Linked DNA regions of Homo sapiens: region 2 is linked to region 1. A link means that fine-mapping ties the variant in region 1 to the plasma level of a protein whose gene starts in the linked region. Region 1 holds a variant in brackets. A gene starts in the other region. All regions are shown on their forward strands. Region 1 has its middle 180 kb from the start of PRDM1. Region 2 holds the start of TIMD4 (T cell immunoglobulin and mucin domain containing 4).

Evidence for each region. PIP is the chance, under the fine-mapping model, that this variant and not a neighbour inherited with it causes the effect. The UK Biobank Pharma Proteomics Project read protein levels with antibody pairs (Olink). The fine-mapping took linkage between variants from a reference panel, not from the people measured, so its PIPs are less certain.
Region 2: TIMD4 starts here. The variant in region 1 is fine-mapped to the plasma level of the TIMD4 protein (UK Biobank, PIP above 0.99).

Annotation. Positions count from the first base shown.
Region 1 is chr6:105,904,070-105,912,412 of GRCh38, forward strand. It overlaps the pseudogene RN7SKP211. Among named protein-coding and RNA genes, the nearest start is that of PRDM1, 180 kb to the right of the region's middle. The variant C/T (reference allele first, on the strand shown) is at 4,102.
Region 2 is chr5:156,959,685-156,968,027 of GRCh38, forward strand. It overlaps TIMD4 (T cell immunoglobulin and mucin domain containing 4), which reads right to left and starts at 3,542. Exons shown (of 9, transcript NM_138379.3): 1 at 3,457-3,542. The coding sequence starts at 3,514.

The DNA of each region.
Region 1 (8,343 bases):
TATACTTATATTTATGTGTTTATATTTATATATCTGTTCCTGCTATATATTTGTATATGTATATATAATATGTCTGTACTACATTTATTTTCATATACACTGTATATATAAAAATGAGGGAGAGGAAGAGAGGAATTTTAAAAATTTTCATGTGGCCATAACAAGTGTTAAAAAGTATTCTTCTTGGAGTTATTATTACATTTATTTCAAATGTACAGTTAATCAACATCACATAAACATATTTAAAATCATATAGATAATTATTAAACATATAAAGTATGTTGTATCAGAAATGAATCTCTTGGATGTGAGGGTGATCTGGCTGCAATATCTGTCACCCCATTGATCGCCAGGGTTGATTCAGCTGATCTGGCTGGCTAGGTGGTGTCCCCTTCCTCCCTCACTGCTCCATGTGCGTCCCTCCCAAAGCTGCATGCTGGGTCAAAGAGGACAACCATCCCTGATGGAGGAGGATGGGTCTTCGGTCAAGGGTATAGGAGTAACAAGAGTAACTGCGTTCCCCTGCTAGAACCTCCAAACAAGCTCTCGAGAAATGAATCTCTTAACAAATTCAGTGGCATGTTTTTCATCCGATTAATTCATGTATAGCAGGTCTTTGAATAAACTTGTTTCCTTCAACGTTGTTTTGTTATAATGTTATTGGGAAAAAAAAATAGTTCCCAGGCTGGGCTGCCATCTGCGTGGATTTGCACGCTCTCCCCAGGCCTTCGTGAGTTTTCTCCCACATTCCAAAGATGTGCACGTTGGGTGAAGTGGCATGTCTACACGGTCCCCGTGTGAGTGTGGGTGTGGGTGTGAATGCGTCCTGCAATGAAATGGTGTCCTGTCCAAGGTGAATTCCCACTGGCACCCTGAGCTGCCCAGACAGGCTCCAGCCACCCGTGGCCCTGAACTGGAATAGACTGATAAATAATTATCTTACTTGGTTTTAGTCATCTTTTTAAAATGTATGTATAGCTCACACTTATTTTAAAGTTTAGTAAGTTTTTTTTCTTTATTTAGAAGTTTGGTGACATTTATGTGACCAGAAATATGCCATAGGAACTTAATTCTTGTTCATATCAATTAGCCTGTGGTAAAATTGGTTTCCTTATACATCATCTCACTAACATAGCAGTTTCCAAGAACTTATTGATGATATTAAGTGAGTTACTGTATTTATAATTCGATATTCCTTAATGCTAAACTGTAGCCATCTTCAGAATCAATTCTTTTCCCAATTTTTCATTTTTATGGAGGTAAGCACTGAGAAAGTAGTTGTTTTAGTCACCTAAATAGAGGAAATGAAAGACATTTTGTTATAGCAATAACACTAAAAGTTCTACGATTTTGTAGAAAGCCAAGAATTAGAAACCAATTGACTTGAAAACCAGTAAAAACAAGTAAAAACTTTTTTTTACTCCATGATTAAAGTCATTCATTTTTTCAACAGCAAAGTCAAGATTTTGAGTTATTCCTCATTTCATCCCTCAAGTAATTTTACATCCTAGGACAAAATACCCTAGTAAGATTTGCTAGGTAGTACGTATGCCTCTCTTTCGCAAAAAGACACGAAAGGTAAATGATCAGTACCAAAGTGCTGGCTATTGAGCAGATCCATTTTAGGAGAGCACATAAGGAAGGCATTTCTCTGAAAACCACGTGTGCCTGCCTACCTCGTAGGAAGTCTTCATTGCTCCAGGAATGCACGTATTTCCCCTTTGAAAACTGCTGGACTGCATGGTCCAGTCCCTGCCTGCTTTCCAATCTCACTTAACCTTTGTTTTCCCTGAGCTCCTCTGAATCATTGAGCATGTTGTTCCCACTGCCTACACATCACTTCCTCAGAGACACCTTTTCCTAGAGACACCTTTTCTCTGAGGTCACCTTTCCTGACCTCAGAGACACATTTGCTGACCATCCAGAGACACCTTTTCCTGACCATCCAGCATAAAATAGGTTTCCCAGTTTCCCAGTTATTCTCTCTCTTAATTCCCTGTTCATCTCCTTCATACTACTTATCACAGTTTGCCATCATGTATTAATTTGTATTGATTTAAGTCACCCACCTGCCCACTGTCTTTAGCATTACTTGGGAACTTGTTGGAAACGCAAATTCCCAGGCCCCACTTTAGACCTTGAATGAGAAACTCTAAAGGCAGGATCCGAAAATCTGTGTTTTGTTTTATTAAGTGTTCCAGGTGTTTCTAATACCACGAAAATTTGAGAATCACTATACGGAATCATATTCTCTATGAGGATGGAGACTATGTCAGCTTTTTTCCATCACTAAACACACACACATGTGCACGCACACACACACACACACACACACACACACACACACACACAGGACTTTGCTTAATGGTCAGCATGTGAGATATGCTCCATGATGACATCCTGTTGAATAAACTCATGTAAGAAAGAAGCTTGCCCCACAGGAAGAAGTACATTTACATAGTGACCCATTATATATGTAGAAATATATATATATATACATAACAAGTTTTACAAAATAATACCCTTACTGCATACCATACACTTCAAACATTCTCCATCCTATTCTATTTCTTTTTTTGATAAGAGGAAAACTAAATTTATTAATTTATTTCACACTTTACAAATGGGTCTATGCACAATTTGAAAAACCTTAATCAGTCAGGACTTTTTTATTTTTCTTTTTTATTTTTCTTTTGAGACAGGGTCTCACTCTGTCGCCCAGGCTGGACTGTAGTGGTGCCATCTTGGCTCACTGCAGCCTCGACCTCCCGTGTTCAAGTGATGATCCCACCTCAGCCTCCCAAGTAGCTGGGACTACAAGCACATGACACCACACCTAGCTAATTTTTAGTAGAGGCAGGGATTTACTATGTTGCCCAGGCTGGTCTTAAACTCCTGGGCTCAAGCTATCTGCCCTCTTCAGCCTCCCAAAGTGCTAGGATAACAGGCATGAGCCACCGTGCCTGGCCAATGCTGTTCTTTTAAAATTCATACCTGTGCCCCTGTTATGTTTTTAATCTGGCATTCCCTCCTCTCCTCATTTCCTCATGCCCAAATCCTACTGATTCTTGAAGGCCTACCTCTTATAGTGGATTTCTCTGATAAGATCATCTTTCCCTCTTCTGAATTCCCACTGCACTTTCTCTGTACCCAGCTTTAAGGCTTTTCTTACTTTCTCCTTTTAATATAGTGTTCATGGGATATCACTTTTCCTATTAAAGTCAATCCTTCAGAACAGAATTCAAATCTGATTCATCTTTGTATTTTTCATAGTATATACAGTGAATAATTTCAAATAATGTTTCCTAAATAAATTAGACTTTCAAGGAGGGAGCTGCTAATTTCATTTATGGTTGTGTGAAGAAATAGTTTAAAAGAAAGTAGTATTTCAACGGGTGGCTAAGAGAGGAAGCGCATGTAAGTAAAAGGGAACCATATGGGCAAATTGTGATAAGTGCCACATTTGTGTAGGAAGTCCTAGGCTTCAGTGCAATTCTAATAAAGTTGCAGGTAGGTGTTTGAGCTAGAAGTTGGAGGAGTTCTATGTTTTTCAGGAATGGATCAGTGCTAGTATTGCCATCATTGGTGGGGCAGCCAGGAAAACATGTCCTCTGCACAGATCTGAGCAGTGCATTTTAAAACAGAAAAGCAACCATATTATTCTCCTTACAGACCTCTCATGGCTTACCTTTCATTGCAGAATAAAGTCATTTAAGGTGCCCTGCCACCCAATCCCATTTGACTTCCTAGTCTTTTCTCCACCACGCATATAACATTGCCAGAATATGCCCTGCACTTTTTCTGTTTTAAAAAAAAAATTACATCTTCAGTGGCAATATGTGGAGACATAAGGGCATGGTGACTATGAAAGTGGCCACTCAGATCTCTTCAGAGGGTACGTTTCCCCAGCTGCCCCACCAATGATGGCAATATTAGCACTGACCCATTCCTGAGAAACATGGAACTCCTCCAACTTTGAGCTCAAGCACCCCCCATCTACCTACCTGCAGCTTTATTAGAATTGCCCTGAAGTCTGAGACTTTCTACACAATCCTCTTTCTTTCCTCCAGTGAGATCCGCTTTGCAGTGTGAAGGCTTTCC[C/T]GCCTATTCCTGCTTCCTCATTTTATTCTCCACCAGCATTTCCCCCACTAAATACTTTTAATCCTGTCTTGCACTTTTAATCTTGCCTTGGCGCCAGCTTCTCTGGGGACCTGAACCAACTACAGAGGGGCAGATAAAATCAGGAAGGAGGTAAGAGGCGAAAAGTTTAGGATGGGCATACCCGATTAAAACACATATATGCCCTTCCTCAAATAATTAAAACTGGAATTGTCATACGATCCAGCAATTCCACTTGTGGGTATGTACCCAAAACAATTGAAAGCAGGGACTCAAACAGATACTTGCCCACCCATGCTCATAGTAGCACGGTTCACAATAGCCAAAAGGCGGAAACAACCCAAGGGGCTGTCAGCAGGTGAATGGATAAAAAAAATGTGATGTATACATATGATACTATAGAGTATCATTCTGCCTTTAAAAGGAAGGAAATCCTGACATGCTAGATCATGGATGAACCTTGAGAACATTATATAAGTGAAATAAGCCACTCACAAAAAGATACATACTGTACGACTCCCCTTATGTAGGTAACTAGAGTAATCAAATTCGTAGAGACAGAAAATAGAATGGTGACTGGCAGGCGCTACGGGAAAGAGGGAATGGAGTGTTAGTTGTTCAATGGGGATGGATTTTCAGTTTTGCAAGATGAAAAAGTTCTGGAAATCTGTTGCACAACAACGTGAAAATACCACACTACTGAACTGTACATTTAAAAATGGTTAAGACAGTAATTTCTAGGTTATGTGTGTTTTACCATGATTTAAACATATGCCCCAAAATATGCAGATGTGTTTATCAATGTGTACATACAGATACCGAATATACAACAGACACTCAAATTTACTGAAATTGTCAAAAGTCAAAGAAGGAAGAGTTCACCTAGCAAGCCACTATGTAGAAAGGGATGTAGATCTTTTGTCAAACCACACATCTTCATAGACATAAATCCAACCAAGGTCAGATAACACCAGACAATCTTCCACAAAACGTGAGACGGCTAGCTGACCAGAGCACTCTCACCATGTCACATGCTGCCAGAGAAGCTGGGGCTACAAAATACAAGCAGATGTCAACACTTTCACCTTCCACTTTCTTAATATCGCTGATCAGGCCAAGTTTCATTTCACTTATTGGGCCACTTTCCATGTTGAGGGAGAAGGATCGAAGGAGGGCGGAAGAAAGTGTTAGGATCTGAGTTTCATATCTGCTAATGTAAACTGATGTTGCTTACTGCTGGGTTTCAAGAGAAAACTTCCCTAAATCAGCCAAGAGTTGCTCAGAAAGACATATAGACCAGGGGTTGGCAAACGTTTTTTGTAAAGTAAATACTTTATATTTTAGTAAATACAGCCTCTGTTGGTTGCAACTACTTAACTCTGATGTTGTAGCACAAAACCTACCATCCATTATATGAATGAATGTGCATGGCTGTGTTTCAATAAAACTTTATTTGCAAAAATGGTAGGCCAGATCTGGCCCACGGACCGTAATTTGCCAAATCCTGATATATAGCACTAAGAGTTCTTTCAAAAAATACTTTCCTCTAGTTTGGATTTGGATGTACTACCTGCTTTCTGGTCTTTTATCTATTAATGCCAAAAGTACACAATTAAAATCTATTTGAAAATGATCAGCTTTATTAAGCGCCAACTTTACTAGAGAAAGTGCCATGAAACAAGATCTAGCCTGGAAGAAAGAAACCAAAATAGTCATCTGATCTCAAGCTGAAGCTACTAGACCAGCGGTTCTCAAAGTATGGTATTTGGACCAGCAGTGTCATTATTACCAGGGAACTTATTTGAAATGAAAATTTTCGGGCCCAGCCCCAGGCCTACAGAATCAGAGTATGTGGGAGTGGGGCCCAGCAATCTGTTTTAACAAGCGCTCCAAGTGATTCTGATGCAAGATTTAGTTTGAGAACCACTGTGCTAGGCTATGTCTGAAGCTTCTCGTGCCTCAAATTCTCCAGCAGCAAAGTAGGAATGTTAAAGTCTTGTTATTTTCCTCTATCCCTCAGGTCACAAAGACATAGCCTAGGCTGGCTGATACACACTTAAGGTGGTTCACCTAACTTAAGTCTACTAGTGTTTAAGGTAAAATACATGTTCTTTTTTTCTTTGAATTTGGATCATCTGCATTTAGAAGAAAAGATTTGTTCTGTTCTAAATTAAATGCAGTTGACCCTTGAGCAATACAGGTTTGAATTGCATGGGTCCATTTATATTGGATTTTCTTCAGCCTCTGCCACCCCTGAGACAGCAAGACCAACCCCTCTTTTTCCTTCTCCTCCTCAGCCTACTGAACATGAAGGTGATGAGGATGAAGACCTTTATGGTGATCCACTTCACTTACTGAATAGTAAACATATTTTCTCTTCCTTGTGATTTTCTTAATAACATTCTTTTCTTTAGCTTATCTTATTATAAGACTACAGCATATAATACATATAGCATATAAAATATGTGTTAACTGTTTATGTTATCAATAAGTCTTCCAATCAACAATAGGCTATTGGTAGTTATGTGTTTGGGGAGTCTAAAGTTATATGTAGATTCCTACTGCTTGGGAGGTCAGAGCCCCAACCCCCATGTTGTTCAAAGGTCAACTATACATATTCATAAGGATTTTATTCAGCTTCATCTATGGAATGATCCATAGAGTCCTTAGGATAGTAGAGATAAGATATATAACTTGTGATACAGATTAGATCCCACCTGGGCCAGAGCCAAGATACATGTGTCTCTGGCGTGTGGAATTTGGCGATATCCAAATCCCATCCAAGTATCTATTTGCCCTCATAATTTACATAAGGACCAAGGAGAATCCTGGAGAAAATCTCAAGCCATGCCCCTGGCTGAGAATTAGATATTTGAGACATATCTGGGAGACTTGGTGGAGGCAGGGAAGGAATGAAAATAAAGAAGAATAAAGAGAGGAAGAGAAACCAGTGCACGTGCAAACACACACACCCGAAAATGAAGTTAACTATAAAGGAAAGTAATGTGAAAAACCAGCCATGCCAGCCACAATGCCCTTCAGACCCTGAGCTCCTGAGCAGAGGTGAGTCCTGACTATGGCATGGCAGCTGGCACATCAATCATTTTCCCCAGCTCTCCTAGAGGCACACAAGCACCCCAGGGATGCACGGTGGCTGGGTTCACTGGCCTTATGCATGGAAAGTGCAGGCTCATTAAGTTCTATAATGTTCCATAGGTCCAAGCAATTCTCCGGAGGCACAACATTCTTCCCACTTTGCAAGAGAATGCCAAACTCCTGAGGAGAAGCAGGAGGACTGCCAGCTCTGGAGTCAGATAAGGAACTGGCAGTACAGCAGAAGCCAGGAATTTTGTAGTCAGGGGCACCATCAGAGCTTTTATTAGGCACCCTCTGTGGACTTATTCAACACTTGGGGAAGGAAGTCTGTGCAAAGTCCTGGAGTTCCCAAGTGAGCTAGCTGGAGCTTGGAGGCAGCAAGATTCTGGTAATTATGTTAATGTAAATTTATTGTCCCCATAAGATGGTAAGGTTGAAGGATGTGTGTGATACCTTTTGTGCCCTGTATCAGATTCTCTTTGCCCCACCTTTCACTTATTCCAAAAACCACTGTAGCGACTGGTTTTGCACAGACTCCAATCAACCTCACATAAGTGTAACCCAAAGAACCATTCCTTAAACAAGCCTCTTGCCTCCCACTCCAGGGCTTCCCTGTTGAGTCTGGGGAGAGGGGTTTTTAACACACTTGGGGTGGAATTTTGACCAATGGGGTTAGGAACTGATTAATAAATGTTTCCATCTTCTCCCCCCTGCAACCTCCAAATGAAATGGAAAACCATTTCAATCAGTTTCTCAAGCAGACCCAGGGTGATCAAGTACCAGTGGCCCACAGGGTGATTGACTCTATATTACACATCTGCTTTGTGTCTCCCTCCTTCTCTAGTGCCTCCTGGAATAATTGCACTTATAAGTTTGGTTCAGACTCTGCTTTTTTAGGAACCCAGGCTGAGGCAGGAATATTTAGGTCTCATGTGACTTAGAAGCAATAATACATTTGCTGTCAATATAGGACTTGTATATCTTTCAAGGCAAATAAATGGTATTATTTCCTATTTTATGTGATTTACTATATAGTATAATAATTTCATTATATGCCTCTAGCAAAGATATAATAATCCTCATCATTTCCCTAGATTCCTAATCTTGCATTTTTTTTTCCTTTTTTTT
Region 2 (8,343 bases), not on the chromosome of region 1:
TCCAGCTCTGATCCTTGGTGATTCTGAGCAGTCACTCTCTTTTAATTTGGTTATCTTAGAAAAGGCACATATAGGCCGGGTGTGGTGGCTCACACCTGTAATCCCAGCACTTTGGGAGGCTGATACAGGTGGATCACCTGAGGTCAGGAGTTCAAGACCAGCCTGGCCAAATATGGTGAAACCCTGTCTCTACTAAAAAATACAAAAAATTAGCCAGCTGTGGTGGCGGGCGCCTGCAATCTCAGCTACTTGGGAGGCTGGGGCAGGAGAATTGCTTGAGCCTGGGAGGCAGAAGTTGCAGTGAGCCGAGATTGCACCATTGCACTCCAGCCTGGGCATTGGAGTGAGACTCTGTCTCGAAAAAACCCAAAAATATTTTGAAAAACAAAAGAAAAAAGAAAAGGCACCTATGAAAAAAAAAACAAAATAAAACAAAAAACAGCTCACCAGGTGCTGCCTCCTTCAAGCAGGATTAGAAAATTCCCCTCAACCAGTGTCTTGCTAGTAGCAGGACATGTAGACATAGACCCCTGCAACTTTCAACCTAACAAAACCTTCCAAACTTCAAGTTTCCAGGATAAGACAAAGACAGTAAAAAAAAATTGATGAAAAGGCAGATGGTAGCTTTCTTACATCCAAACAAACCCATACCAAACCCAAAATATAAGTGTGAAAGTGACAGGGACTGCTTTCATTCTGTAGATTGTTTTTTTCTTCCCCCTTTTTTTTTTTTTTTTTTTCAGAAAGAGTCTCACTCTGTCACCCAGGCTGGAGTGCAGTGGTGCAATCTCGGCTCACTGCAACCTCTGCCTCTCTAGTTCAAGCGATTCTCCTGCCTCAGCCTCCTGAGTAGCTGGGATTACAGGCACATGTCACCACGCCTGGCTAATTTTTATATTTTTAGTAGAGACGGGGTTTCACCATGTTGGCCAGGCTGGTCACAAATTCCTGACCTCGGGTGATCCACCAACCTCGGCCTCCCAAAATGCCAGGATTATAGGCATGAGCCACCACCCCTGGCCTGTAGATTGTTTCTTCAGTGCCTATAATGTATCAAGGGTGGAACTAGGTGCTGGAATATAACAAGCCACAAAGCAGACCTGGGCTGCCCTCATGGGGCCTGCAGAGTACCTAGGAAGATAGTCAAATGAGTGAGCATTTGCTATAGAGTGACAAGTTTACAGATGCAGGAACTCCAAGGAGGATGCGAACTCATAGCAGAAACACCTGAACTATTCCAGAGGCTACAAGGTAGCCAGGAAAAGCCTGAATTAAGTAGGGACCTGAGGATGCATGGCACTACGGAGGAAAGAAAGGCAGAGAGAATAGTACAAGTTTGAGAGGTGATGAAACACATTTGTTTTCCTTCAAATATGGGTGTTTTCTCATGCACCATGTTGGAAAGGTTTCTGCACATACAAAGAGCCAAGAGGTAGAAGAAAAAATGTTTAACATTGCTAATCACTGGGGAAATGCAAATCCAAACCACAATGAGGTATCACTTCATTTCTGATAAAATGGCTACTATCAAAAAGACAAAAAGCAAGCATTGCTGGCGAGGACGCAAAGAAAGAGGAACTCTCGTACGCTGTTGGTGGGAATGTAAATTACTACAGCCATTATGGGAAACAGTATGGTGATTCCTTAAAAAACTAAAAATAGAATTACCATATGATCCAACAATCCCACTACTGGGGATATATCCCAAAGAAAGGAAATCAATTAAAGAGATATTTACTCTCCCATGTTTATTACAGCACTATGCACGATAGCCAAGATATAGAAGCAACCTACGTGTCCATCAATGGATGAATGGATAAAGAAAATGTGGTATATGGCCAGGTGCGGTGACTCACGCCTATAAGCCCAGCACTTTGGGAGGCCGAGGTGAGTGGATCGCCTGAGGTCAGGAGTTCAAGACCAGCCTGACCAATATGGTGAAACCCCGTCTCTACTAAAAATACAAAAATTAGCCAGGCATGGTGGCAGGCGCCCATAGTCCCAGCTACTTGGGAGGCTGAGGCAGGAGAATGGCGTGGACCCAGGAGGCAGAGCTTGCAGTGAGCCGAGATAGAGATAGTGCCACTGCAGTCCGGCCTAGGCAAAAGAGCGAGACTCCGTCTCAAAAAAAAAAAAAAAAAAAAAAAAAAAAGAAAGAAAAAAAAAAAGAAAATGTGGTATATAAACACAGTAGAATATTCAGCCATAAAAAAAGAATGAAACTCAGTCATTTGCAACAACATGGATGGAAACAGAGTTTATTAATATTGTGTTAAGTTAAGCTAGGCACAGAAAGACAAATATTGCATGTTCCCACTCATACATGAGAGCTAAAAAAGTTGATCTCATGAAAGTGGAGAATAGAATGATAGTCACTGGAGTCTACAAAGGATAGGGGAAAAGGGGTATGAAGAAAGGCAGGTTAATGGGTACAAAAATACAGTTAGTTAGAACATGAGGAAAAAGGGAAAAAATACAATTAAATAGAAGGAATAAGTCCTAGTGTTTGATAGCATAGTGGGGTGCCTATTGTTATTAATAATTTCTTGTGTATTTCAAAATAACTAGAAGAGAACATTTGAAATGTTCTCAGCACAAAGAAATTTAAATGTTTCAAGAAATGAATATCCCAACTACCCTGATTCGATCATTGTACATTGTATGTATATATCAAAATAACACATATGTAGCCCATAAATATGTATAGTTATTTTGTATCCATTTAAAAAAAAAATGGACTTTTGTAAAACTGCAAGGGCCATTCAATATTATCTTGTCCTAGAAGCACAGATTGTGACAACTGGTCATTTAAAAAGCCAGGTCTCTCATTTCAAATATGGGAGAGCCAGAGCAATTTAGACATATTCCCAGTGTCAACAGTTAGTGCCCGAGACGCAGCTGCAGCTCAGGCCAGAACACTTGGCTCTATACCACCAGGATGCAAAGAACTTCACTGGCCAAAACTGAGTGTGTACACTTGCATCATCCAAAACCCAAAAACAACGTGCAGAAAAGAAACCTTACATAAAGCCTCACCCCAGCAAAACAAAACAAAAAGCAAACACTTCTAAAAACAGAGGGAATGATAAGAATTATCACAATTCTCACCAGAACAAATTCTCCTGGCTTATTGATTATATGAATAACACCCATAGAGGAAATCTCTTTTCCCCAATTTATCTGACCACTTATTTCTGTGTCTCTTCTTCAGTTGCTGTTTCCAATATAAGCCCAAATTACCCCAGCCTAAAACCCCCAGACCAGTCTCTGGATAAACCTCTGTGTAACAAGGCAGGACAGAGACCCTCCACAGAAGGAAGCCTGGTAGGGAGAGGGGAGGGATGCAGAAATGAAGTGAGCTTCTGCTTCACTGAGGCCCAAACCAGTGCATGGAAATCCATCACACAATAGCAAGTCCTCTGGAAACTTCTACATAGAAGGTTTCAGAACACTTACTCAGGTAAAGCCACCAAAACTCAATCATCAGCCAGAGAATGAGAGGTTCTTTGGACATTTTGACGGTTGACCGGACCCAGGAGTCTGTCTATCTATCCAAAGCCCAACCTCTTATATCCCAGTTAATGCTGACAGGGTGGGACTCTTTAGTTTCATTTCTCTTTTTGCCTCATAATCTTCCCTTTCTCCTGTCCTACATGGCTTCCCCCAATGGGCGATGCATGATGAAATGTGCTGAGCCCTTTTCTCCTGGTGACTAGTGTGTGTGTGGAGGGATGGCGTGGACATACTTGTGCTTCTTTGTCCATGTGTATAGTGGGTTTCCTATATGTGCACAAGCATCCATGCATGTGCTGGTGCAAATATGCCTGTATAACCTGTGCATGTGCCACAGTTGTCCCAACTGCTGTACAGCCTGTCACAAAGTGCAATTGACTCTCCATACTGGCAAGTGTTTACATGTAGATTCCTCATGGGGCCAAAGCATAGTTAGACTGAAAGTTGCCTCCATTCCCATTCTAGGTTCTCCCTCACCCTGTCCCCTGGCCTCCTTGCCCTAATAATGGAGAAAGAAAAGTGAGGACAGGCACAGTGGCTCACACCTGTAATCCTAGCACTTAGGGAGGCCGAGATGGGAGGATCGCTTGAGGCCAGGAGTTTGAGACCAGCCTGATCAACATGGCGAAACCCCATCTCAATTTTTTATTTAAAAAAAAGTTTAATAAAAAAATTAAATTTTTTTTTAAGTTTTAGGAAGACACTGAAGCCCAGAACTTCCTGATTCCAAAGCTTATGGTTAATCACTACATTGTCCTTTGACCTGTGACCGTTTGGGTAATGTATCCATATGATGAGGCCTACCTGTGGCTAGCTCCTACTTAGTACCAGGAAGAAAATATAAGAATTCACAAATGTTCTAGATTTTTAAAAATCCTTAATTGATTGTAAACAGCCAGCAAACCTCAAACATTCAACATTGCTTCTACTGAAGGTATCAGTGAAAAATCTAAATATCAGGTGAGGTTCTAGACCCAGAGAAGCCAGACTAACATGAGCAGGGATGAAAATAACGGGATTCAGAGTGAATCTTCCCACTGAATGCCCACAGAACCAAGGGATCCTTTCCCCATTCTATCCCAGGAAACTGGAGGATTTAATCTCTGGATAAACTAAGTGGTCCCAATAAAACATTTTCAGATATTTATAGTTTTGAGTGTTCCCCAACAAAACCACTCAACCCTCCTTCAATAAGTTCATCAGTGCATGAGCCTCAGCCATGCATGCAGAACTGTTAATGAGTCTTTAGTGTCCCTTTCAGATATGAACAGATAACCAGGGATCATCAGACATTTGAGGAAAGCATTTAACATAAAAAAGAGACAAAAATAACAGGGAGAGCTAAAGAGAACTTCAAAAACTTTTTAAAAAGCTAATATTTTCTCAGAAAGAAAGATTTTACATTCATGAAAAAGAACATAGACATTATAAAAATGTCCCGAATTTTATGGAAGTTTTGAAAAATAAAGTTAAGAAAATTTGTTAGAAATTATAACCATCTACAAAGTCAAAGGACTAGGATTGTTTCAGAACATTAAAAAAGAAAATAGAGGAGAGGAAATTACTAAAGAAATAATAAAGGAAAGACTCTCGTAACTAAAGGAGATGACTCTCAGTATTGAGCGGGTCAATCAAATGCTAAACTCAATGAATAAAAATATCCCCAAAAAGCAAGACATTATCATGTAATATGAGAACATCAGACATAAAGAAAAGATACGAAAAGACTCCAGAGAGAAAGAACAACATATTGCACTGAATGGATTTGGAAATAGAATGGCATTGTTGTTCCAAACAACAAAGCTAGAAAATAATGCACGAATGCCTTCAAAATTCAGAGGGAAGGCCGAGTGTGGTGGCTCACATCTGTAATCCCAGCATTTTAAGAGGCCAAAGTGGGTGGATCACTTGAGTCCAGGAGTTCCAGAATAGCCTGGGCAACATGGTAAAAACCTGTATCAGCCGGGCGTGGCGGCTCACGCCTGTAATCCCAGCACTTTGGGAGGCCAAGACGGGCAGATCATTTGAGGTCAGGAGTTCAAGACAAGTCCCAGCAACATGGCAAAACTGGTCGCTACTAAAAATACAAAAATTAGCTGGGTGTGGTGGTGCATGCCTGTAATCCTAGCTACTTGGGAGGCTGAGGCAGGAGAATCACTTGAACCCAGGAGGCAGATGTTGCAGTGAGCTGAGATCATGCTACTGCACTCCAGCCTGGGTGACAGAAGGAGACTCCATCAAAAAAAAAAAAAAAAAGAGGAAAAGAAAATCTATATCTGCCAAAAATACAAAAAATTGGCCGAGTGTGGTGATGCGCACCTGTGGTCCTAGCTACTCCAGAGGCTGAGGTGGGAGGATTGCTTGAGCCCGGGAGGTGAAGGTTGTAGTGAGCTGAGATTGTGCCACTGCACTCCAGCCTGGAAAACAGACAGAGAACCTGTGTCCAAAAAAAAAAAAAAAAATCCAGAGGAGAAATTTAATTTCAACCTAGAATCCTACTCGCAGACAATCTATTTCTCAAATGTAAGATCATAATAAAGGCCTTTTTGGACATAGATTCAAAATTTACTTACTATACTTCCTTTCCTAGAAGTTATGGAAGAGAAATCTGTAGCAAAACGGGAGAAATAACCAGGAAACAGAAAGTCATGGGGTCCAGAAAACATGACATCTAACTCCAGGGAAGAAAAATTTCACAAAGAAAACTGCAGAACAGACCTAGAGGGGAACTGTTTCACTGCATCACAAACCACCCCAAAACCTAGTGCCTGAACAATGTCAATGTACTTTTCATGATTCCCTGGGATGACAGTGTTCAGCTGGGTAGCTCTCACCCAGTGACAGTGGCTATCTCAAGACTAGATTGGACTATTTGTCCAAGATAACTTTCTCACTCACATGACTGATCATCCAAAATGACACTTCTAGCTGGACTTGTATGTCTAGCAAATTAATAGAATGACTAGAAGAGATAGGGGCTGGACTGACAACTGTCTCTCTCCACATGACCTTTCTACATGGAAGCTTGGGCTTCCTTACAGTATGGTGGTCTCAGAGTAGTTGGATTTTTTACATAGGATCTGGCTTTCTCAAAAATTAGCATTCCAACATGCTCAGGAATAATCCACAAAGGTTCTTATGACCTAGCCTTAGGTAACATTCAGTATCATTTTTACAGTATTTTATTGGTCAAAAGGCAAATTATAAGGCCATCCCAGAGAATTCAAGTGGAGGGAGCAATACAAGGATGTGAATGCGAGGAAGTGTGGTTCATTGGAGTGGTAGGGGAAGCATCTTTGGAGAATAATTACTTTAATAACCACCTCAGGCTGGGGCAGAAGAGCAGAGGAATAAGCCTTGGGGTGGTGGTAGTGAGTGTCACGAATAAGCTCATGTACTTAGGTAATTTGAAAATAACTTTGATAGGTGTTTGGCAGATATGATGGAATACTTGGGATGAATTTTTTTTTTTTTTTTTTTGAGACAGGGTCTTGCTCTGTTGCCCAGACCGGAGTGCACTGGTATGAACATGGCTTAGTAAAGCCTCAACCTCCAGGCTCAAGCAATCCTGTTGCCCCAGTCTCCCAAGTAGCTGGAACCACAGGTGTGCCTCCACACCCAGCTAATTTGTTTAAATTTTTGTAGAGGCAGGGTCTTGCCATGTTGCCCAGGCTGGTCTCAAACTCCTGGTCTCAAGTGATCCTCCCATCTCAGCCTCCCAAAGTGCTGGGATTATAGGCATGAGCCACTGCCCACAGCCATGGGATGAATTTTTGATGGATACTTGGGAAATTAAGAAAAAAACACAATGAAGGCTGGGTGCAGTGGCTCACGCCTGTAATCCCAGCACTTTGGGAGGCAGAGGCAGTTGGATCACTTGAGGTCAGGAGTTCCAGACCAGCCTGGCCAACATGGAGAAACCCCATCTCTACCAAAAATACAAAAAGTTGCTGAGTGCAGTGGCACATGCCTGTAATCCCAGTTACTTGGGAGGCTGAGGTGGGAGAATCCCTTGAACCAGGGAGGTGGTGGTTGCAGTGAGTCAAGATCATGCCACTGCACTCCAGCTGGGGTGACAGAGCGAGACTCCGTCTCAAAATAACAAACAAACAAACAAACAAACAAAAAATGAGATAATTATTACAACCAGGAAAGATAAAATTTTGTACGAGAAAAGAAATGTAATTATGGTGCATTTGCTAAGTGTGAAAGATATTAATAGTTACATGCTGGTAATAATGTAAAATCTGGCTACTGGCTTAATACACCATTTTTATTTTTATTTATTTATTTTTTTGACACAGGGTCTCACTCTGTCACCCAAGCTGGAGTGCAGTGGTGCGATCTTGGCTCACTGCATGGAATACTTCGGATAAATCTCTGCCTCCAGGGTGCAAGTGATTCATGCCTCAGCCTCCCAAGTAGCTGAGATTACAGTCATGCACCACAATGCCCGGCTAATTTTTGTATTTTTAGTAGAGATGGGATTTCACCATGTTGGCCAGGCTGGTCTTGAACTCCTGGCCTCAAGTGGTCTGCCTGCCTCAGCCTCCCAAAGTGCTGGGATTACAGAAATGAGCCACTGTGCCCCAACTTAACACATATTTTGATTTGACTACACTGGAAAAATTGGTAGAGAGGAAGCGGGGTGGGGGTGTAAGAAAGCCAAAGTCTATTCACCTTTACAGGGAGTCAACAAATAGTGTCTCAAATTGGTCAATCAGACAATACCAGCATAAACACGCTGTGAGTAATATGAAGGTAAAAACCAGAAGAACAAGCTCAAAAGAGTTTAATGCAAAAAAGTGGGAAAGAAATTCACTATTTTTT